Homo sapiens: one gene and its partners. The protein of the gene in region 1 purifies or fractionates together with the protein of each later gene. This does not show direct contact. Each region holds a gene or a part of one and is shown in the gene's direction. Other genes may lie near its edges.

The links.
Region 2: the proteins of B3GNT3 (region 1) and SLC30A5 purify together in Homo sapiens (affinity purification with mass spectrometry; 3 studies listed by BioGRID and IntAct, with this or other methods). This does not show direct contact.
Region 3: the proteins of B3GNT3 (region 1) and ITGAV purify together in Homo sapiens (affinity purification with mass spectrometry; one large-scale study listed by BioGRID and IntAct). This does not show direct contact.
Region 4: the proteins of B3GNT3 (region 1) and CLSTN3 purify together in Homo sapiens (affinity purification with mass spectrometry; one large-scale study listed by BioGRID and IntAct). This does not show direct contact.
Region 5: the proteins of B3GNT3 (region 1) and TUBB8 purify together in Homo sapiens (affinity purification with mass spectrometry; 2 studies listed by BioGRID and IntAct, with this or other methods). This does not show direct contact.
Region 6: the proteins of B3GNT3 (region 1) and PGRMC1 purify together in Homo sapiens (co-immunoprecipitation; 3 studies listed by BioGRID and IntAct, with this or other methods). This does not show direct contact.
Region 7: the proteins of B3GNT3 (region 1) and OS9 purify together in Homo sapiens (affinity purification with mass spectrometry; one large-scale study listed by BioGRID and IntAct). This does not show direct contact.

Annotation. Positions count from the first base shown.
Region 1 is NC_000019.10:17,805,138-17,808,637, forward strand, and holds part of B3GNT3 (N-acetyllactosaminide beta-1,3-N-acetylglucosaminyltransferase 3), read left to right. Parts: intron 1-2,620; 5' UTR 2,621-2,670; coding exon 2,671-3,237; intron 3,238-3,500. UniProt on the Homo sapiens protein: Beta-1,3-N-acetylglucosaminyltransferase involved in the synthesis of poly-N-acetyllactosamine. Has activity for type 2 oligosaccharides.
Region 2 is NC_000005.10:69,118,014-69,121,513, forward strand, and holds part of SLC30A5 (proton-coupled zinc antiporter SLC30A5), read left to right. Parts: intron 1-485; coding exon 486-615; intron 616-3,500. UniProt on the Homo sapiens protein: Together with SLC30A6 forms a functional proton-coupled zinc ion antiporter mediating zinc entry into the lumen of organelles along the secretory pathway.
Region 3 is NC_000002.12:186,596,556-186,600,055, forward strand, and holds part of ITGAV (integrin alpha-V isoform 1 preproprotein), read left to right. Parts: intron 1-3,500.
Region 4 is NC_000012.12:7,156,908-7,159,445, forward strand, and holds the end of CLSTN3 (calsyntenin-3 precursor), read left to right. Parts: intron 1-581; coding exon 582-784; intron 785-1,033; coding exon 1,034-1,174; 3' UTR 1,175-2,038; downstream 2,039-2,538. UniProt on the Homo sapiens protein: Postsynaptic adhesion molecule that binds to presynaptic neurexins to mediate both excitatory and inhibitory synapse formation.
Region 5 is NC_000010.11:46,497-50,715, reverse strand, and holds TUBB8 (tubulin beta-8 chain), read left to right. Parts: upstream 1-1,419; 5' UTR 1,420-1,477; coding exon 1,478-1,534; intron 1,535-1,803; coding exon 1,804-1,912; intron 1,913-1,990; coding exon 1,991-2,101; intron 2,102-2,257; exon of another isoform or gene 2,258-2,291; intron 2,292-2,433; coding exon of another isoform or gene 2,434-2,601; coding exon 2,602-3,659; 3' UTR 3,660-3,828; downstream 3,829-4,219. UniProt on the Homo sapiens protein: Tubulin is the major constituent of microtubules, a cylinder consisting of laterally associated linear protofilaments composed of alpha- and beta-tubulin heterodimers.
Region 6 is NC_000023.11:119,239,285-119,242,125, forward strand, and holds part of PGRMC1 (membrane-associated progesterone receptor component 1), read left to right. Parts: intron 1-1,024; coding exon 1,025-1,180; intron 1,181-2,841. UniProt on the Homo sapiens protein: Component of a progesterone-binding protein complex. Binds progesterone. Has many reported cellular functions (heme homeostasis, interaction with CYPs). Required for the maintenance of uterine histoarchitecture and normal female reproductive lifespan.
Region 7 is NC_000012.12:57,711,132-57,714,631, forward strand, and holds part of OS9 (protein OS-9 isoform 1 precursor), read left to right. Parts: intron 1-3,500. UniProt on the Homo sapiens protein: Lectin component of the HRD1 complex, which functions in endoplasmic reticulum (ER) quality control and ER-associated degradation (ERAD).

The DNA of each region.
Region 1 (3,500 bases):
TCTGTTGCCCAGGCTGGAGTGGTGTGATTATAGCTCACTGCAGCCTCAAACTCCTGGGGTCAGGCAATCCTCCCACCTCAACCTCCCGCATAGCTAGGACTACAAGTATGCATCATCACGCCGGCTAACTTTTGTATTTTGGGTAGAGATGGGGTTTCACCATGTTGCCCAGGCTGGTCTCAAACTCCTAAGCTCAAGCGATCCTCCTACCTCAGCCTCCCAGAGTGCTGGGATTATAGGCCTGAGCCACCTTGCCCAGCCCACAGGGGACTTCTTAAAGGCATAAATCAATCTGATCCCTCCCCTGCTCATAGACCCTCCATGGCTCCTCATTGCTTCTCACAGGAAACATAAGACATTCTTTCTGGCGTGCCCATTCTATTCTTGTACCCTAGCAGGGTCCCATAACTCCACCATCACCTCCTTTCTCTCGCCCTGTCCCAACCACGTCAGCCTCCTCGCTCTGCCACCAGCACCCTAAATTTGTATCCATCTCAGGGCCTTTGCACATGCTCCACTCTGTCTGGAATGCCCTTCCCCACAGTCTGCTCAAGTGAATTCCCATCATCCTTCAGGACCTCCCTGATCCTAGGTTGCTCAGGTCCCCTGTGGACCTGCCTCAGTAACAATTAGTATGGCTGTCACTAATTGTTAGTATCATTTACAATTTTTTTTTTTGAGACAGCATCTTGCTCTGTTGCCCAGGCTGGAGTGCAGTGGTGTGATCATAGCTCACTGCAGCCTTGAACTCCTGGGCTCAGGTGGTCCTCCCACCTCAGCCTCCCAAGTAACTGAGACCTCAAGCACATGCTACCACAGCCTGCTAATTTTTTGTTTTGTTTTGTTTTGAGACAGAGTCTTTCTCTGTCATCCAGGCTGGAGTGCAATGGTGTGATCATAGCTCACTGCAGCCTCCACCTCCTGGGTTCAAGTGATTTTCCTGCCTCAGCCTCCCGAGTAGTTGGGACTACAGGCACCCATCACCATGCCTGGCTAATTTTTGTATTTTCTTTTTTTTTTTTTTGTAGAGAGTGGGTTTCCCCATGTTGGCCAGGCTGCTGTTGAACTCCTGACCTCAAGTAATCCACCTGCCTTGGCTTCCTAAAGTGTTGGGATTATGGGTGTGAGCCACTGCGCCCAGCCTAATTTTTGTGTTTTTTGTAGAGACGGGGTTTCACCATGCTGCCCAAGCTGTTCTACTTATTGTTATATTGAGGGCAGGGCTGGCTTGGTCACAGCTGTATCCCCAGCATCTAGCATACAGTAGGTGCTCAGTTAACACTCTAGGGCTGATGAGCACTGTGACAGTTAACAGGATTGGACTCATGCACGTTCACGGATATTCACCTGTCTGTGCCCCAGGTGGCCGAGAGTTGGCCAGGTTCTCTTTGAGGGATGTTTGGTGCCATCCATGACGCAGTCCCTTGTGACAGATTCTGGGAGGCCCTGAGGTGTTGGAAGGGAGTCTCCCAGTGACCCCGAGTTGAGGGACGTATGAGATGGGCATACTGCACCCATCAAAGTTCTGGGTTCCGGCTGGGGACGGTGGCTCATGCCTGTAATCCCAGCACTTTGGAAGGCTAAGGTGGGCAGATCATGAGGTCAGGAGATCGAGACCATCCTGGCCAACACGGTGAAACCTTGTCTCTCCTAAAAATACAAAAATTAACTGGGCGTGGTGGCGCGTGCCTGTAGTCCCAGCTACTCTGAAAGATGAGGCAGGAGGATCGCTCGTATGCAGGAGGCGGAGGTTGAAGTGAGCCGAGATTGTGCCACTGTATTCCAGCCTGGGCAACTCCATCTCAAGAAAAAAAAAAAAAAAAAAAAGTCCTGGGTTCTGATACTGCTCCATGCTGTAAGTGGGAATAGCTGGGGAATCAAGGTAGCCAGGATGGTGGACTCATGGTCACTGAGGCGGTCACCACACAGCTAATATGCATCAAGCCCTTTTGCAGTCAGGGAGCAGTGGCCCCAGTGTGTGTGTGTGTGTGTGTGTGTGTGTGTGTGTATTGGAGCAGGAACCTCAGCACCCCCATGTCCTAATAAGGAAACTAAGACTTCACACAGAAAGGCAGGGCACAGTGACTCATGCCTGTCATCCCAGCCCTTTGGGAGGCCGAGGCAGGTGGATCACTTGAGGTCAGGAGTTCAAGACCAGCCTGGCCAACATGGTAAAACCCCGTCTCTACTAAAAATACAAAAAAATTAGCCAGGCATGGTGGCTCACACCTGTAATCCCAGCTACTCAGGAGGCTGAGGCAGGAGGATCGCTTGAACCCATGAGGTGGAGGCTGCAGTAAGCGGAAATTACACCACTGCACTCCAGCCTGGGCAACAGAACAAGAGAGAGAGAGAGAGAGAGACGCTGTCTCAAAAAAAAAAAACAAAATTAAAAAATTTAAAAAATTAATCCCCAGCAGGGAGGGCCAGGGCACCTGTCAGAGCCAACAGGGGTTGGAGTGCTTTGAAATGGGTCTTGCAAGGGGTGGAGGAGTTAAGTGGGGGGTGAATTTCAATATTTTGCCAACCTGAGCAACTGTACAGGTGCAACCAGATGTTGGGGGCCACAGGAAAAGCGCTTTGCTCATGGCGAGTGTTCAGTGAGTTTTGTTTTCCACAGGAGCCGCCCAGGAGGCTCCTCAGGCCGACCCCAGACCCTGGCTGGCCAGGATGAAGTATCTCCGGCACCGGCGGCCCAATGCCACCCTCATTCTGGCCATCGGCGCTTTCACCCTCCTCCTCTTCAGTCTGCTAGTGTCACCACCCACCTGCAAGGTCCAGGAGCAGCCACCGGCGATCCCCGAGGCCCTGGCCTGGCCCACTCCACCCACCCGCCCAGCCCCGGCCCCGTGCCATGCCAACACCTCTATGGTCACCCACCCGGACTTCGCCACGCAGCCGCAGCACGTTCAGAACTTCCTCCTGTACAGACACTGCCGCCACTTTCCCCTGCTGCAGGACGTGCCCCCCTCTAAGTGCGCGCAGCCGGTCTTCCTGCTGCTGGTGATCAAGTCCTCCCCTAGCAACTATGTGCGCCGCGAGCTGCTGCGGCGCACGTGGGGCCGCGAGCGCAAGGTACGGGGTTTGCAGCTGCGCCTCCTCTTCCTGGTGGGCACAGCCTCCAACCCGCACGAGGCCCGCAAGGTCAACCGGCTGCTGGAGCTGGAGGCACAGACTCACGGAGACATCCTGCAGTGGGACTTCCACGACTCCTTCTTCAACCTCACGCTCAAGCAGGTGCGCTGGACTGGGGTCACCTGATCGGGGCCACCTGTCCTTCTTGTCCAAATTACCACCCACTCCTGAGGGACCCAGGGGACCAGAAGTCCTCGTCAGTCCATCACAGCCCATTCTGCCCCTCTGCTGTCCTCACCAGCCTCGTGGAGACCCAAAATGGTCTTCTTCTAGGAGAGGCTAGGGGGAAGGGCAGAGGAGCTAGGTTACTAGCACAGAGCTCAAGCCTGATGATGCGGATTCGAATCCAAGCTCTGCCTCTTACT
Region 2 (3,500 bases), on another chromosome or scaffold:
AAATACAAAAAAAATTAGCCGGGCGTAGTGGCAGGCACCTGTAGTCCCAGCTACTCGGGAGGCTGAAGCAGGAGAATGGTGTGAACCCAGGAGGCGGAGCTTTCAGTGAGCCAAGATCGTGCCACTGCACTCCAGCCTGGGTGACAGAGCAAGACTCTGTCTCAAAAAAAAAAAAAAAAGAGAGTAAAGAAGGACTTTGATGAATATATAACATTTTAACAAATGTATATATTCGTTAAAATGTTATATATTCATATATAACGTATATATATTCATATATAACGTGTATATATATGTGTATATATATATATGTATATATATATGAAGGACCTTCCAGGCATTAATATGATATTTAAAATATTGCTAATTTTCTATTATTAATTACTTAGTAGTATGAAAATTTGGACTTGTTTCCTCATTTATAAAGTTTATACTTTAAAAATATTTGTCCTTTTCCTTTTCTGAAAAATGTTCTATGTTTTTAGGTACGGCCGAATAGAAATTCTGTCTGGATTTATTAATGGACTTTTTCTAATAGTAATAGCGTTTTTTGTGTTTATGGAGTCAGTGGCTAGATTGATTGATCCTCCAGAATTAGACACTCACATGTTAACAGTAAGTCTTTTTATTTTCCTATTTGGATTTCTAGTCATACTTACATAGTTTTTTCTATCCTAAAGTTTAATTGTTTGCAGTTATTGCTCTAAGAAGGTTTTATTTTTTACTTATATCAACATAACTTCCTATCTTGCTGTTTACATTTATACTGCTCCCTCTTAGAAATTCTCTTTTTTTTTTTTTTTTTTTTTGAGACAGAGTCTCTGTTTTCCAGGCTGGAGTGCAGTGGCATGATCTCAGCTCACTGCAGCCTCCACCTCTCAGGCTCAAGCGATTCTCGTGCCTCAGCCTCCTGAGTAGCTGGGATTACAGGCATGTGCCACCACCCCCTGCTAAATTTTGTATATTTTGTATAGATAGAGTTTCGCCATGTTGGCCAGGCTGGTCTCGAACTACTGACCTCAAGCAATCCTCCCACCTTGGCATCCCAAAGTGCTGGGATTACAGGCATGAGCCACTGTGCCCGGCCAGCTATAGCAACTTTTAATGTTCTCCCTGTACCACCAAAGCTTTACATGTGCTGTTTCTTGTAGTTGGCATGTCCTTTCCTTACTTCTGCCCTTCAGCCTCCATCAAGATTTTGCTTATGTGAAATACTTTTTTTCTTTTCTTTTTTTCTTTTTTTTCAAGCAATTCTCCTGTCTCAGCTTCCCGAGTAGCTGGGACTACAGGCGCCTGCCACCACGCCTGCCTAATTTTTGGAAATACTTTCTTTTAATCCCCCTCTTCTCTCCACAAAGTTTGTTAGATTCCTTTTCTCAGTATTCTCATTATGTTTTGTGCATTCTTCTTTTAGCAACATTGAGTTGCAGTTGTTTAATTTGTCATTCTTCCACAATTAAGATATGTAAGTATCTTCAGGACCTGAATTACATATTATTAACTCTTAAGTTCAGTTCTAGCACCTGGCTTGTCGTAGGAAATCAGTTGTTAAATGACAAAAAGCAGCTCTGGCTCTTGCTGGTGGAAGCATACATGAGTAAAATGTTTCTATAATACAGTTTGGAAAAATAGACTTTTTTGGATTTTTTAGTGCCTGTATCCTTTGATATTGACTATTTATCATACATAAACATTCACACAAACATATAGAAGTACATGACTCTGGCCGGGTGCAGTGGCTCACGCCTGTAATCCCAGCACTTTGGGAGGCCGAGGTGGTTGGATCACCTGAGGTCAGGAGTTTGAGACCAGTCTGGTCAACATAGTGAAACCCCATCTCTACTAAAAATACAAAAATTAGCCGGGCATGATGGCGCACACCTGTAATCCCAGCTAGTTGGGAGGCTGAGGCAGGAGAATCACTTCAACCACGAGGCAGAGGCTTCAGTGAGCCCAGGTTGCACCAACTGTACTCCAGCCTGGGTGATAGAGAGACTCTGCCTCAAAAAAAAAAAAAAAAAAAAGTAGTACATGATTCATTGTACCCTTATTTATAATAGTGAAAAAATGGAAACAATTCACTGTCCACCAGTGAAAAAAGTAATTAAATAAATTTGTTATCTATATAATAGAATATTACAGAGCTATTGAAAAGAATGAGATATATCTGTATATACTGGCCTGAAAATATTTACGAGATGTACTAGTGAAAAACAAATTGCAGGCCATGCATGGTGGCGGGCGCCTGTAATCCCAGCTGCTTGGGTGGCTGAGGTAGGAGAATTGCTTGAACCTGGGAGGCAGAGGTTGCAATAAGCCGAGATCATGCCACTGCACTCCAGCCTGGTTGACAGAGCAAAACTCTGTCTCAAAATGAAAAAAAAAAAATTGTAAAATAGTATTATGATTACATTGTTGGTTTTAAAGGGTGTTATGTGTATGTATGTTAGTACACAGATGGAAAATACACCATTTTAAGCGTGACTAACCCTTGGTGGTAGAATTATAGGGGACTTTCATCTTCTACATTTTTATTTTCCTGATAAAATACACAATGATGAAGTATTTTTCAGTAGGGGAGAAGGAGTACTTATGAGATGATGGAGTCTCTGTAAGCAGTACTTGGTTTCATTCAAAGTCATTAACCATCTACCAGCTTATAAAGCCTAATGAAATTTTAAAATCTGGAGTCAAATGGTCCGAATCAGGAAGAAGTAAATAACCTCCCTACACATTTAATAAAGTAAATCTCTTACTACTTTTGAAAAGTAATTAAAAGTATTTGTCCTTCTCATATTTATATTTTCCTTTTATAAAACAAATGGATTGCTTTAAATTGTAGATGTAGGCAAATTAACACCCTGAGCTACTACTATTCAAGATCATTTTGTAAGAGCAGATAATCAAGGATAAGTAACTTTGTTTATCCTTTGGAGTATTATTGTGGCACCATTAAATTAAAGTAATTTCATTCACTTTGTTAAGAAAAAAATGAGAGGCCAGGCATAGTGGCTCATGCCTGTAATCCCATAATCCCAACACTTTTGGAGGCCAAGGTGAGAAGATCGCTTGAGCCCAGGAGTTTGAGGACAGCCTGGGCAACATAGACCCTGTCTCTACCAAAGAAAAAAATTTGTTTTTAATTTAAATAAATGCGAGATTACTATTGTATGTTTCCTTTTTATTATACTTGTTTTACTTTGGAAAATTTTACTGTGTTTAAGACATAATAAGACCATATTTGGAATCTGCTCATTAATAAATTATAATTGTTGGCATATAAACTGTTCAAATTTACCTAGCAATATAAAGATTTCAGGTACAGTGTATACTTGCCCTAGTAAGCAGTACTTTCAAACTCTTCAATAAACAAAACAAAACTTTGCATCATTTATTTATACATAAACCATAAACCAAGTACATACCATTCTTAATTGAAATAAGTCCAAATTCCTCTACTTACCAATTCTGCTTGATATTTGAAAGTTAAAATGTTTCTT
Region 3 (3,500 bases), on another chromosome or scaffold:
TTCTGGCTAACTTTTGTATTTTTAGTAGAGATGGGGTTTCACCATGTTGGCCAGGCTGGTTTTGAACCCCTGACCTTAAGTGATCCTCCTGCCTTGGCCTCCCAAAGTGCTAGGATTACAGGCATGAGCCACCGTGCCTGGCCTGTGTTGCTTTTTATTCCTTAATTTTTTTATATAGCATCTTTTATCACCTTGTACCCAGTTTTCTATGCAAGTATTTCTTTTTCACTACACAGCTTCCTCGTAAGACTTTAACATATGTCTAAGGTCATTTTACTTTCTCTATCTCTTCATTGTTCTCTTTAAAAAACTTAAATATCTTAATGATAACTTTAATATCGAGATGGCATTTTGGATGAAAAACTTCATCAGCTTTTTTCCCTCACAAATTTAGCATGTAGATATTGACACATTCCTTTTATATTATTCTGCCATTTCTGTAGCATTTCACCAGTATGCAAGTCTGCACATGAAGGTATGCTTAGGAAAACTTAATGAACATCCATTTGTACACCTGATTACCATCATTTCATGCCTATAATGTGCAGATAGCCTGATGAAAAGCAACAGGCTTGTTCCTGGTATTATTCAAGGAACTCATGCTATGTGCTGCCAATAGAGTGGTGTTTTCATTCAGAGAATGCTCCTACTGGGCTCTTTTTCTCTGTCTTTGTTGAAGGCCTTCTCCTAATAACTTCCGAGCTCTCTCTGTCTTATAGTGCCAAGTAAAGAAAGTATCTGAAACCCAAAATTAAGTAGAGATGTTACACAAGGAAATTGTTTTAAGGGTAATTTAAATAATTGGATGTTTAATAGAGGATGCTTTCTGCATTCTTGAGGGGTTCAGACGTAGTGGAAATGACTTATTTATATATGGCTACTTTAAGATTGAGACATAGCTATTGAATTTACTTTGTTACTCCACTGTCCATTTAAACTTTTCTTGAGTTCTTATAATGTGGCAGGTGCAAAAGATGAATTAGAGTACCCTACATTCAAAGAAGCAATTTATCATAAGGTAGGCAGAATAGTTTTGACCAAAAAGTTATAAAATATATTGTAAGACAGGGGTCCCCAACCCTCGGGCCATGGACCAGTACCAGTCCATAGCCTGTTAGGGACCATGCTGCACATCAGGAAGTGAGCAGCAGGAGAGTGAGCATTACCACCTGAGCTCTGCCTCCTGTCAGATCAGTGGTGGCATTAGATTCTCATAGGAGCAAACCCTATTGTGTGAACCCTGCTGTGAAGTGTGCATGCAAGGGATCTAGGTTACATGCTTCTTATGAGAACCTAATACCTGGTGATCCGAGTTGGACAGTTTCATCCCGAAAGCATCCCCCTCTATGTCCAGGGAAGGAAAGGTTGGGGACCACTGCTGTGAGCTACTATTTGAAGACAACCCAGAAGTGATTTTTGCTTGTAGGTTTCCAGGCAAAGCTTGAGAACCAGTTCTCCTATCCTGATGTAGAACCTGGTATGATCTACAACACTAAGAACGTGTACATACCTGTGCTTGTATTACTCTCATTAGGACTACTGTGGCAATGTCCCAAGCAAGCACTATTCAAGATATTGACCCTCAAAAGCAAACTTACCTGAACTGTTCTTTTGTTCTAGTATGCACTCAAAAATCATTTAATTCTGATGAAAAGGGGTAGTTGTGTGATTTTGGGGTCAAATTTTAGACCCGTAGAAAAAAAATTGTATATGTAATAAATTTACATATTATAATTTATACACACACACACACACACACACACACACACACACAGAGTTTCACTGTGTTAACCAACTCTGCTCTAGAAAAAGAACCGATGGGGTTTTGATGACGAGCTGCTCTCTTAGTTATGGGAGGTGGGGACTCTCTTACTCATAGCATTTTTTTTTTTTTTTTTTTGAGACAGAGTTTTCCTCTGTTGCCCAGGCTGGACTGCAGTGGCGCAATCTTGGCTCACTGCAATCTCCACCTCCCAGGTTCAAGTGATTCTCCTGCCTCAGCCTCCCGAGTAGCTGGGATTACAGGCTCATGCCACCACGCCTGGCTAATTTTTATATTTTTAGTAGAGATGGGGTTTTGCCATGTTGGTCTCAAACTCCTGACCTCAAGTGATCTGTCTGCCTCAGCCGCCCAAAGTGTTGGGATTGCAGGCATGAGCCACTGTGCCCAACCTCTTTTTTTCTTATGAAAGACTTTTGCTGAATGAAAACTAAGTTCATTTTCTACCCAGAATCATTTTGCCGTGATGGGAGAGAGCCAACATTGGTGTTTTACTGATGCCAGATATGACTGCATGGAGCTCTATTAAATAGGGCGTGGTTTGGTTGGGAGTTACGTCTTTATTTTGAATTTGTGGATTTTTAAGATAAGTGTCAGAAAGCAGGATTCTTTGTAACCCTGCAATTCGTACAGCCAGCTTTTGTCTACTGTAGATGAGATTTGGCAGCTACTACCCAGAATAAGAAATTGATTTTAAAAGTTCAAGTGAATGCATTCCATATTTAAGATGTACATTCGTTCTAATTTCACAAAAAGGTGAAAAGCAATTGTAAATGTTTCCTTTGCCAGAATAATTTAAGTGACTTAGTATTTAATGAAACAAAATGATTATGGTGATAGCATTTTAGGACTGTTTTTGTCTGCCTGTATCCTGCTTTATTTCCTCCTATATTTCAATCAGTTTCTTGAGATTAAAGACAAAAATCTTTTTTACTTTATCTTCTTTCTCTTCTTGACTCCTAAATGTTGTTGTCCCTGAGAACTCACTCATTGCCCCTCCTCTTTCGACGCTTCCCCTGGCTGAATAACCCCAACTGTGTTCTGATACAGCATACTGTCTCAGGCAGGGCTTCAGACTACAACTGGATGACTCACAGATATCTCAAACAAACATATTAATAATTGAATTCATGGTTTTTCTGTAAATACTAATTTTATTTTATTTCTTGAGACAGGGACTCATTGTTTCACCCAGGCTGTTTGCTTACTTTGTAGCACTTGTAATCACAGCTCACTGCAGCCTCAACCTCCTGGGCTCAAGCCATCCTCCTGTCTCAGGACCCCAGCTCCACCCCCAAAGTTGGGACCACAGGCGCATGCCACCACACCCAGTGAATTGTTTTATTCTTTGTAGAGATGGGGGTCTTACTATGTTGCCTAGGCTAGTCTTGAACTCCTGTAAGTACTTAATCTGCCTTCTGCTTCTCTGCTCTCTAGGCTTTTCTCCCATCAATGCACTCAAGAAGGAAATCTAGGTGGCATTCTTGAATGTCTTTTCTCTCATATTCAGGCCTCCAGCGATTGCTGTTGTACTCCAGATGTTTTTTTCCATCTGTCACCTATCTTTCCACCCACCCTCTTACTGCAGATCACACTCACCTGCTCCCTGAGCTGCGGCCAGTCCTTTGCTTTCCTTGTTCCATTTTTTTCTCCCTCTCCCTTAATGCTTTCCCCATAGGGCATAACATTTAGTTTTCTTTAGTAGATGATTTCATTCTTC
Region 4 (2,538 bases), on another chromosome or scaffold:
TCACGGAGTGAGCTCAGTCCAGGTGGGTAAGGGAAGGGGCTGCTCTGTGCCCCTTGGACTTGTCCCCAGCCTCAGGTGCTAGTGCCCTCTTCCTGCAGCCAGCCCAGGCCTGGAGCCTGCATCTCCTCCTGCTCAGCCAAGCCCGTGTGGGGGCCCCTCCTCTCCCTCACTGGGCACTGGCACCTCTTTCCTAGGCTGAGTGGTCTCTGGGGAAGGCACAGGTGGAATGACAGGGGCAGATTCCAGTCCTTGCCCTCTGTCCTCTGCGAATAGGGCTGTTCATGACAGTGTTGGGCAGGGAGTCTTTTTCCTCCTCTGCCCTTGCCTCTCTGTACACCTGCCTCCCTCTGTGTTTGTTCCTTTGCCTTGCAGCAGCTCCCTTCCTCCCCTTTCGTCTCCTGCCCTTCCTGGTGGGCTGTTTCTCTTCTGGCTTCTCCAGGTGTTCCTCTCTTCTCGGCCACCGTGTGTTCTGCCCTGGGAGTCCTTCAGCCCGGGCTGCCTCTTTTCCTACCCAGCCCCCTGTCCAAGTGCCCCCAGGTGTGCCTAGTCACGCTCTGCTCACCCCCGCGCTCTCTCTGCAGTGATACCCAGCGCCGCAACCCTCATCATTGTGGTGTGCGTGGGCTTCCTGGTGCTCATGGTCGTCCTGGGCCTGGTGCGCATCCATTCCCTTCACCGCCGCGTCTCAGGGGCCGGCGGGCCTCCAGGGGCCTCCAGTGACCCCAAGGACCCAGACCTCTTCTGGGATGACTCAGCTCTCACCATCATTGTGAACCCCATGGAGGTGAGAGGCCTGGGGAAGCGGGGTTCTGTAGGGTCAAGACTGTGGAGCACACACGGTGAGGACTCCTGAGGAGGGGCAGGCCTGGGTGGAGGCTGTTCGCAGAGCTGCAGTGAGCCGGAGGGAGAGAGGTTCAGGCAGGGAAGGGGGTACACAGGGGTTAAGGGGACCGAGGGAAGTGTGGTCCCTGAAAGAGAGGCTGGGATGTGTGCAGGCCATTGATCCCTTCTCCTCTCTGTTCCTGCCCTCCAGTCCTACCAGAATCGGCAGTCCTGTGTGACGGGGGCTGTTGGGGGCCAGCAGGAGGATGAGGACAGCAGTGACTCGGAGGTGGCCGATTCCCCCAGCAGCGACGAGAGACGCATCATCGAGACCCCCCCACACCGCTACTAAGGCCTACACCTCTCCCCACGCAGAGGGGGAATTCTGCCCTGGTGAAACAGACACTCCAGACATGGGAGAAGGACTTTCTGGGAACACAGAGACCAAGAGGGAGAGAGGCTTCAGAACCAGTCCTCCTTTCATTTCAAAACCCCAGCGGGCCCTCTGGAGTCCGCCCTGCCCCTCCCCCGGCCCCCCATCCCTCACTTCTGGGCTGTCATGCTCCTGGTGTGCCCCTTGCACTGGGGCTGGCTGGGTTGGAAAGTGGGCTGGACTTCAGCTGCCTTTCTACCCCCAATGGCAGCTGCCCCCTTAGCACTCACTGTGTTGGGGAGAGGGTGACGATTGCAATGGCTGGGGCTGGGGCTGGGGGTGGGATTGAAGGAAACCCTCTCCTCTCCCCTTCCCTTCTCTCTCCTGTCCATGGGAAGCTTTTCCCCCTCTGCAGGGCTCCCTCAGCTGGACCATCGTCCCTGCTTCTCTTATGATCGCCCCACCTCATTTCCATTTCAGTCTGGGGACCCCATTTCTCCCTCCTTTCCAACTTCCTTCCTTTCTTGTCCTGTTTCCCTTCCTGCCCTTGCAGTCCTGAGGTCCTGCAGCCCCGGCCCCTCCTCCGTGACCTGGTGTGGCCAGGCTGCGGGGACGGGAGGGGACGTGGGGGCCCCGGGTGTACATATATAATGTATATTTTTTCAATGTTGTCGTGAGTGCAGCCCATGTTCCTGCGTGCAGCTCACGGCCTTGTGTGTATGTGTGTGTGTGTGTGTGTGTGAGGCATCGTCATGTCCTGGGGCAGGGGCGGGGGGTTGGGTGTGGTGAGGGAGGGGACATATCCTAGGGTTTTCAAATAAAACAATCAGAAAAAAAAAAAAAGCTCTGTGAGGCGCCTCCTGACTGCCTGGTCCTGTGTGGGTGTGGTGGAGGCTCTGGGGCCTCAGGGGCTGTTTGGGTCTCTGCACAGAGCTGAAGTGAGGTGGGCAGGGCTGGTGATCTTGGGGGCCTGACCAGGTAAGTCCCCAGGATGCCAGATCACCTGGAAAGTAAGCTGGGGGCAGATGGTTCCCACGCCTCCCTTCCTTCAGCACCCCCTGGAAAAGTACAGAAGATTCAGGGAATGCTATGGACACCTGGGCAGATGCCCAGTGCCTTGCAGGGGTGCTGCCAACCCCGCCCCACAACTTGGAACATTTTGCCTGTGCACATGGGCTCCCTGCTGGGCGGCCCCAGGGAGAAGGCAGGCAACCCTGCTGTTTGTACCAAAGGGATCTGGAGACTGTTCCCAGGCTGACCCTTTCCTGCTAGCCAAGGCTCAGACCCAGGGGATGTCTGCCTGCCTTGCCCATGTCCTTGTGGCTGCCTCACATGGCTGCTTA
Region 5 (4,219 bases), on another chromosome or scaffold:
CATTTACACTGATTCCAAGTATGATTTTTTAGTGCTTCATGCTTATGCTGCAATTTGGAATGGGTGGGGACTCCTGACCCCCAAGGGCTTTTCCATACAACATCGTTCAGATTTTGAGCTTGTTAGAGTGCTGCTTTGCTGCCAAAAAGTGAGTATAATTAATTGCAGAGGACATCAAAAGAGAGACTGACCATGTAAAAGGAAATGCCCTTGTAGATGCCACAGCCAAGGCCCCTGCACTGAAAGGGCCAATGAAGCTTGTGGGCGTGCTGGTCAGCATACATAGAACTGGGCCAGAATACCCTGAAGAAGAACGAAAATGGGCCAGGGATTGCATTTCAGTCCAGGGCCCCTCGGGCTGAATGATGGTAATAAATTACTAATGCCAAGTACCAATCACAGGAGTATAACTCAGCACTTTCATGATTCTTTTCACCCTAGAAGGGATTCTTTGTTTCTGTTAATGTCTCATTTGTTTATAGGGGTAAATCTTTTCAAGACACTAAAACAGGTGACTCAGCCCTGTGAGCTTTGTGCCTGACATGACTCAAATGGCCAGCAATTTTCTCCTTCTCCAGTTAAACCTGTCCAAAATTGAGGAACCTATCCAGGTGAGAACTGGCCACTCTAATTTACCCGGAAGCCTTTCTGCAGGAGATTCAAATATTTGCTAATGCTTACTGACACCTTCACTGGTTAGATCGAGGCATTCCCCACCCCATCTGAAAAATGTTTACCAGAAGAAATAACTCCTCAGTTTGGGTAATCCAAAAGCCTGCAAAGTGACAATGGCCCATCTTTCACAGCAGGCGTATCCCAAAACCTGTCCTCAGCTTTAAGAATCCAATATGACCTTCACTCTGCTGGAGACCACAGTCCTCTGGAAAGGTGAAAGGGCTAACCCTACTCTAAAGAAGACTCCAGCTAAATCAGAGGCCTGACTGTCTCTAACACCCATAGCTTATTGTGGGTTAGAACTGCTCCAAAGTAAAACGTATAATTGAGTCCTGTTGAGTTCACATGTGGAAGGCCTTTCCTAACCACAGATCTCCTAATAGATGAAAAGACTCATCAATTACAAAAATATGTCATCAATCTAGGACAGGTGCAAAGGCACTCCGTGCATATGGAAACAAGAGTCTTCCCCTCCCACATGGGAGGAAAATTCAGTTTCAGCTCAGCTAGGGATTTAGTCTTACTAAAGACGCGGGAGGAAGTTCTCCAGCGAGCAGCTTTCCCCAACGTGGAAAGGACCACGCAAGGACACCTGAGCTTTCCAACAGATGTTCAGCGCCAGGGGATCCACAGGTGGGTGCACCTGTGTGGAAGTAAAGCTGTTGCTTATTCTGGGAGCCGAATCCGAGGCGGAGGGAGGTGGGCGCGGGGCTATTTAAACGTTGGCGGAGGGCGGGCTGGGTCGCTGCGCGTCTGCTCCTCCTTCTCACGTTTCTCCTGCCGTCCTAATCCCGCCTTGGCCATGAGGGAGATCGTGCTCACGCAGATCGGGCAGTGCGGGAATCAGATCGGCGCCAAGGTTGGCAGCCGGGGCTCTGAGGGCCTAGCCCGGGCCTGCCGGGTGGCCGGGGAAGGTGTTGGCAGTGGCGGGGGCGGTGCCCATGCATTGCGGCCCCTGGGCTCCCTGCCGGGGACGGTGGAACCGGGTGGCTGGCGAGGCGGCCGGGGTGGACCCCAGGGACAGGGCGGCCTAGGGATGGGGGTGCGGATGAGGGTGGGGGTGGGAGAGCGGCTGGGGCGCCTCCCTGACTCAGCCCCGGCCTGTCTGTCTCCTCCCGTCTCTTGCAGTTCTGGGAGGTGATCTCTGATGAACATGCCATCGACTCCGCTGGCACCTACCACGGGGACAGCCACCTGCAGCTGGAGCGCATCAACGTGTACTACAACGAGGCCAGCGGTGAGACCCCCGTCCTTCCCCCACCGCCCTCCTGGGAACGCGGCCCTCCCCTCGCTCATGCCCTCCCGCCCCACGCAGGTGGCAGGTACGTGCCCCGCGCTGTGCTCGTGGATCTGGAGCCGGGCACCATGGACTCTGTGCGCTCGGGGCCCTTCGGGCAGGTCTTCAGGCCAGACAACTTCATCTTCGGTGAGCTGCGGGCGAGGACTGGGGTGCGGCTCCTTAGCCAGGGCAGCTCAAAATCCAGGAGTGTGCTAAGGTCATCCTCTGGGAACTGTGGAGCTAGGGCCCCTGAACACCCTCCTATCCTCCGAGTCGAGTCGCTCAATCTGCCTCTCCTAAATGGGCTTCGGGAGGAAGGCCCTGGTGTCTCCTCAAGGTGAGGAGTTACTGATGTAAACTCCCTGCAAGAACCTGAGCTGGGGCCGTGGCTACTGCCTTTCCTGAGAATGGGCAGGAGCCACCTGCAGCGAGGTCTGTGAACCCGTCTCAGGTTTGACTCCTGTCTTAATTCCTAACAGGGGAAGCTGCTGTCCTGTAACTCTGGGGGAGGGGGTTTCATCTGCTCCACCTGCAGGGCGAACGGTGCTCTCACCTCACGTGTGACGCTTGGCTCTTTCTGCATTATGGTGGTGACCACTGATGACCGTATACCTGGCCGTCGAGTGACCGGCTGTGCTGTCTTACAGGTCAGTGTGGGGCCGGAAACAACTGGGCCAAGGGACACTACACCGAAGGCGCGGAGCTGATGGAGTCAGTGATGGACGTTGTCAGAAAGGAGGCTGAGAGCTGTGACTGCCTGCAGGGTTTCCAGCTGACCCACTCCCTGGGTGGGGGGACTGGGTCTGGGATGGGTACCCTTCTGCTCAGTAAGATCCGGGAGGAGTACCCAGACAGGATCATAAACACATTCAGCATCCTGCCCTCGCCCAAGGTGTCGGACACCGTGGTGGAGCCCTACAACGCCACCCTCTCAGTCCACCAGCTCATAGAAAACGCAGATGAGACCTTTTGCATAGATAACGAAGCTCTGTATGACATATGTTCCAAGACCCTAAAACTGCCCACACCCACCTATGGTGACCTGAACCACCTGGTGTCTGCTACCATGAGTGGGGTCACCACGTGCCTGCGCTTCCCGGGCCAGCTGAATGCTGACCTGCGGAAGCTGGCCGTGAACATGGTCCCGTTTCCCCGGCTGCATTTCTTCATGCCCGGCTTTGCCCCACTGACCAGCCGGGGCAGCCAGCAGTACCGGGCCTTGACTGTGGCTGAGCTTACCCAGCAGATGTTTGATGCTAAGAACATGATGGCTGCCTGTGACCCCCGTCACGGCCGCTACCTAACGGCGGCTGCCATTTTCAGGGGTCGCATGCCCATGAGGGAGGTGGATGAACAAATGTTCAACATTCAAGATAAGAACAGCAGTTACTTTGCTGACTGGCTCCCCAACAACGTAAAAACAGCCGTCTGTGACATCCCACCCCGGGGGCTAAAAATGTCAGCCACCTTCATTGGGAATAATACGGCCATCCAGGAACTCTTCAAGCGTGTCTCAGAGCAGTTTACAGCAATGTTCAGGCGCAAGGCCTTCCTCCACTGGTACACGGGCGAGGGCATGGATGAGATGGAATTCACCGAGGCCGAGAGCAACATGAACGACCTGGTGTCTGAATATCAGCAATATCAGGATGCCACGGCCGAGGAGGAGGAGGATGAGGAGTATGCCGAGGAGGAGGTGGCCTAGAACTCTCCTTTTCTAGGTAAAGGGGGGAAGCAGTGTGGATTCTTTACTGTGTTCTGACAGCCATGTGTCACTATACGCTTGTTAATTTGTGTCTTCACATCTCCTGCTGCGTTTTAAAGCATTTTTATAGTATGCGGTTTTGACTAATAAAGTATTCTCACAGCATCTGGTTTTGCCTCCATCTTCTTTCTATGGGCCCTCTGGCTACTGCTGCCAGATGCGCATAGTTGTCCTGCAAGGCGGAAGCTGTCTGGGTTCATCACATGCCCAGGAACAAGCATTCCAGTGGCTCCAGGAGGGGTCGGTATGGGCTGTGGACATGGCAGGCAGGCTTCACATGAACTTGGGGATGCCCTGGGCCTTGGGCAGTGACGTGGTGGAAAACCTGTTGCTGAAGGCAAGCCTTGGCTTATCCCATATACCAAACTTCTAGGGGACCAGCTGGCCATGTTTCTGGAACGTTAAAAGGGGTCAGTGACCCTGGTGGACAATGTCCCCAGAGTCCCATCTCAGGGTAGGAATGTGGTCAGAGCTGGCTCTGAACCAGCAATGAAGGGTGG
Region 6 (2,841 bases), on another chromosome or scaffold:
GCATTTAAAAGTTGTAAAATTTGTAAAAAATTTCTGAGTGTATTGAGGTTTCAGGTGAACAGGCCATATTGAAACTTGATCTATTCTCATACTTGGTTCCCTACAAACATTTTAATGTCAGGGCTGCTATTCAATCTGCCTTGGGGGAAACAACACATTGTTTAAAGTACACTGGATTCTCTTCATTTAGTTGTGCAATATTTAAATAAGTCTAAATATCCACTTTGTGTACCCACAGAATGATTCTCTGCTCTCTTAGACAAAAGTTCAGTATAATATCACAAATAATCACATTTTATAGAGTTGTTTTATAGAGTTGTTTTGCAGTATTGATTCAGCCTCTTTTCCATGAAAATTTTAGTATTTTCACAGTCTTCTCAAGCCCACCAAAAAACAGATAATGAAGACTGATCTCTGTGTTATCTATTTATTGACAGTGAAGGTTATGTAATGTGGATAGATTTTTAAACCACCGATACTGTTATAAAATGGTTCTTCTGCAGATGCCATGAGTTAATGTTTAATTGAGCCTTGGAACCAAAGATCTCTATAAGATACCTTTGTTTCATTAAAACATATCAGAATATATTCATAAGGAAATGTGTTTTCATGTACACATCAGTGCTTATTATCTTAAGAAACCATAACTCTCACTGGTGTAGCCCCAAGTGCCTAGAACTGTCAGGCTCCCAGTTCAATGTTCTTGTATGATTCCCTACTACCACTACCCCAAGAGATCACTAACCACGTATGACTTTTTTACTAGCTATTTGGAAACCACAGGAGACTGACGCAAATGTATAGCAGTTTGATTTACTTTTAGTTATTTAAAAGTTAAATGACAACAGGTCTTTCTGTGTCTCCTACATAATGTTCAGAATATCAGCATTACTATGGTTTCCTAATGGAATTTGATATTCAAAAATGGGGCTATGTTGATGAATAGGGAAGCCATTTTCTGTGTATAAATCACAGAGAAATTGACTGTCTAATAAAGAATTGATCTTTGGTTTTGTTTTTGAAGAGGGGCCGTATGGGGTCTTTGCTGGAAGAGATGCATCCAGGGGCCTTGCCACATTTTGCCTGGATAAGGAAGCACTGAAGGATGAGTACGATGACCTTTCTGACCTCACTGCTGCCCAGCAGGAGACTCTGAGTGACTGGGAGTCTCAGTTCACTTGTAAGCATTTTTAAAATTGTGTCTGGGTCAAATTTCTACCAGTAATGGGGATTCGTGGCAGGACAATAGTTATTACTAAGCAGCCTGAAACTTGGGTGCATTTTGATAGGCTCCTTAATCTTGGACGCATCAAGTTCATGGCTTGAAGTAATTGTAGCAGTGCTGAGTCACTTGCTATGATTGCATACCAATTTTTAGCCAGTTCTCTATGGAAACTTGGGTTTCTGGTTTTGATTTTAAAATTTTTGAGAGATTTGCTAGATTCCAAATGAGGATTTGGTGCTTGGTGTGTCAGGGAAAGGACAGTGTCCATCTTGGCTACAGAAAGGGATTTTCATAAGCCCTCTCTTGTAGAGCTTGCCGTTTAAAAGCAGCCCACATCTCTGTTGAAGAATGGGAGACTTGTATTCTGTGAAACAGCTTCTCTTTGAATCTAATTGAACCTAACTATAGGCCTCATCTACAAATGATGCTTATAATGTGCCCAGCAGCAATGGTGTCTGCATTTTTAAAAAGAAAGTAAAAAGGAGATGCTTGTTTCTGGCTTATGCTATGGGCTGAGGTCTTTGGGGAGAAATAGGAATGAGGGGTTAAGTTCAGATTTTGAGAATTCAGGAATTGGTTTCTGTCAAATCTAACTGTTTAATTGTCACTCTAGCAATATTTCACTGCCAAGAATTTGAATAAGAGTCTTTCCCAGCTTTTATGAAACAGTATATAAAGACCATGAGCATTATTTGAAGATTTTTCATTTAAAATGTAGTTTTCTATGTGTGTTCTCTATAATCAGTTAAATATTACATGTTCTCTTGGCTATATCCAACCATTTTCTTTGAAAATAATGCTGACTTCAGAGAGAGTTCTGGATTAATAATTAGCCAGATGTGTCTCTGCCTTTGAGTTTTGGTCTCAAGCAGGCTACATATAACTTCCAAGTCTAGAGGCAAGTTTTTATACTTTGGAAAACATAGTTCAGTTACCTAATAGAGTCCCTAATTTTTGGCATCATAAGGATGCCTTTGTAATTAGTTTTCTATATGAAACCAGTGAATTGTAGTGTCTAACTTACAAAGCTCTATTTTCTAGGGCTTGCCTTCATCAGTGGGAGAAAAAGTGTGATTTTTTTTTTCCACTTTAAGGCTAGCCCCAGATGCTGTTGTGACACCTCAGCTACACTTAAAGTTGGTGTGGATTCCCCTTAAGGCAGGTTTCCCAGGAGCCACCTGGCTTTTATTTGTCTCACACAGTTCCAATTGTTCCCAACGGTTATTTCACACAAAAGCAGCTTTAGTTACCTGGTTAGACAGGTTGGTTACTCCTCTAATTCCTACTCATATTCAGGAAGAGGAGACTCTTGGCTTTGGACATTCAGATGATCGACCCTGCATTAGTTTGGCTACAGTGATGAGGTGGTTTGCTGATGCCATCTCTTCTCAAGTCTTTTGCATTCTGGTTTGCACCCTTACATCTGTTTTCTCCAACACCTCCAGTCATCTCCTGGCTCCTTTACCACTTCCTTTAACCACCCATAGGTTTTTCTCTGTGCTGGGAAAAACGTTCTGTCTCTTGCTCTCCTCTTCATCTATGAGACTATTATTCCTTCCTTTCACTGTCAAACAAACTTCTTACAAGTTTTTATTCCTAACCACTACTTCATTTCC
Region 7 (3,500 bases), on another chromosome or scaffold:
CCAGCCCCACAGGTTAACCCTGGTCTTAGTTTTGCATGTATCCTTCCAGCCTTTTTGTGTGATTACAAACAATTATGAATGGAGATTCTTATTTCCTTTCCCCTTTATTTATAAACAATATATAGTAAATTAAACACACTGTTCTATACCTTGCTTTTATTTCCCTGGACAATAAACCTTAGAGAGATCTTTCAATGGCAGTATATCTTTTTTTTTTTTTTTTTTTTTTTTTTGAGACGGAGTCTTGCTCTGTTACCCAGGCTGGAGTGCAGTGGCGCGATCTCTGCTCACTGCAACCTCCACCTCCCGGGTTCAAGGGATTCACCTGCCTCAGCCTCCCGAGTAGCTGGGACTACAGGTGTGCGCCACCACACCCAGCTAATTTTTGTATTGTTAGTAGAGATGGAGTTTCACCATGTTGACCAGGATGGCCTTGATCTCTTGACCTCGTGATCTGCCCTCCTTGGCCTCCCAAAGTGCTGGGATTATAGGCATGAGCCACCATGCCTGGCCCTTTTTTGTTTTTATAGCTGCATAAAATTCCATTGTGTGTTCCATCATTTTGTCACCATTATTCTACTGGTTGAAATAGTTCCACCCCCAATTCTTTTGTTGTCACAAATGATTATTACATTGTACATATATGCATGTGTAAATATATCTTACATATAATTGGGCTGGGCACAGTGGCTAATGCCAATATTCCCAACACTTTGGGAGGCTGAGGAGAGAGGATCACTTGAGCCCAGGAGTTTGAGACCAGCCTGGGCAACAGAGCAAGACCCTGCATCTATTAAAAAAGAAGAAAAAGAAAGTAAGCAAAAAAAGCATAATTGCCAGGTGCAAGTTATGGATATTTAAAGATTGTCTTTTTTAAACTTTTTATTACAGAAACTTAAAAACATATATAAACTCCCTACAAAGGTGTATCTGTGGTTCCCTGTCTTTGGACACATAGGATGGTATTCCTGTTCTCTATTTCATTTATTTTTGTCCTAGTCTGTAGTCTTTCCCTCTGCTGGCTCTTGGTTTAGTGTGTTCTTCTTTTTCTAGTTTCTTAAGATAGAAGGGTAGATTATGGAGTCAAGATTTTGTTTTTAAAAAATTGATGTTTATAGCTATGAATTTCCCTCTAAGCACTACTTCAGCTGCATCCTGTAAGTTTGGATATGTTATGTCTTCATTTTCGTTCATTTTTGAGGTATTTTATAGTTTTCTTTTGATTTTTTTCCTTTAACTCACTGGTTACTTAATGAGTATATTGTTTAATTTCTACATATTTCTGAATTTCCAAATTTTTTTCCTCATTCATTTCTAATTTTATTCCATTATGGTCAGAGAACACACTTTGTGTGACTTAAATTCTTAATTCTTTGAATATATTTATTAATATAATGGCTACTTTTAACTCTTTGTGAGATCCAACATCTGGGCCCTCTCACAGGTGGTTTCTGTTGCCTGCATATTTTCCTATATATGTTTCATACTTTACTGTTTCTGCATGTTTCATAATTGTTGAAAATCAGACATTTTAGATAGTATGTTGTAGTAACTCCAGATAGAAATTCCTGCCCTCCACCCCATGGCTTTTGTTTGTTCATTTGTTCAGTGACTTGGCTGCACTACTTGCATTCAGTCTCCCCCTCACAACATGAAGCCTCTAGTGTCTCTTCTCAGAGTGCACGGTCTTGGCCCTGCACACAGCCACACTAGATGACAGTGGTTTCAGCAGGCTTTTTGACTGTTTCTTTCATGAATTTGTTAAGCCATCTGCCTCTGCTGGTATCACCCCCAGCTGTTAGGCTCCATTCATTGCCAACTAATTGCTTTATTGTTTTTGACATGTGGGGCATAAGTTGTTCCATAGTTTAGTCCAGTTAATTGTGGGCCCCTTTGTCGGGCTAGTTTTTGAGGGCAATATATAGGTTTGTTCTGAGTCCAGGACGGCTCTCAGTTGCCCTTTCCCTGGTTCTCTCTGTTAAACTAGCTGTCCCAAGGTTTAGCCTGTTGCTATCATGGAGCAATCAGCCTCCTTTTAATTGCCTCCTGCCAAAATCTCTACATTTTTGAAGTGCCTATAGGCTTGAATTTCCCCATACTCTGTTTCATATTAAGTCAGGTCCTTTGGAGAATGTTTTGGAGCCCTGTATTCTTACGGACTGCCTCTCCCCCTGGGCAAAATCCCCGAGGCCCTGCTCTGGAGTTGGGGTCAGGAATAATGGCTTGCTTCACTTGGAAGGACATTCCTGCTTTATGAGCAGGGAGCTAGGCAGGGATGACAACCTCTGCTCTCTCGGTTTGCATCTCCTTTTGTGAAACCTCCACTCTCTGAGCAAGCTTCCGTGAGGGCAATCAGGGCCCCGATACTTTTGTCCCACTGCACTTGAGGTAAAGCCTCTGCCCTGTGGGTGGGGCTGAGTGGAGGAAGGGAGCCCTTGATCTTTTTCAGGAATTTAGTTGCTGTATCTTGGAGCTGGTGGCCCTCCTGGTAAAATACCATATATCATATCTCATGACTGGATGTTGAGAGAATAGGAAGTCCCTCCCCCTCCACCGCCCCACCCCACTTTTTTTTTTTTTTTTTTTAACTACGCTTACCTGCTGGAGTGGAGCTTTAGTCTAACTGAGCTGTGGGGTAGGGGTTTGGGGCATAGATTGAGGGAGCATGTCATGGTTCAAGTGCTGCAAATTCTCACTATTCAAGATTTAGTAGCTGGGCATGGTGGCTCACACCTGTAATACCAGCACTTTGGGTGGGAGGATTGCTTGAGCCCTGGAAAGCCTGGACAACATAGCGGGACCCTGTCTCTACAAAAAAATTTGTAAAAATTAGTTGGATATGGTGGCACACACCTGTAGTCCTACCTTGGGAGGTTGAAGTGGGAAGATTGCTTGGACCTAGGAGGTTGAGGCTTCAGTGAGCTGTGATCATGCCACTGCACTCCAGCCTGGGTGACACAGTGAGACCCTGTCTGAAAAAAAAAAAAAGATTTAGTAGATTTTCTTGAGTAAACATTTCTTCATTTGTTATATGTCCTTAGGAAAATTTCCAAAGAGTTTAAATGCTTTATGTTTGTTTGTTTGTTTGTATTGAGACAGAGTTTCACTCTTGTTGCCCAGGCTGGAGTGCAATGGTGCGATCTCGGCTCACCGCAACCTTGGCCTCCCAGGTTCAAGCAATTCTCCTGCCTCAGCCTCCCGAGTAGCTGGGATTACAGGCATGTGCCACAAGGCTGGCTAATTTTGTATTTTTAGTAGAGATGGGGTTTCTCCATGTTGGTCAGGCTTGTCTCGAATTCCTGACCTCAGGTGATCCACCTGCCTCGGCCTCCCAAAGTGCTGGGATTACAGGTGTGAGCCACCGCGCCCAGCCATGCTTTGTGTTTTTAAATTTTCATCAGTAATGGAGTTTCCCTGTGGAGTGTGCGAAATCCCTCATGCTGCCATTTCAGAAGTAGGACCGCTCCCACTTTTTGTTTTTGAGACAAGGTCTTGCTTTC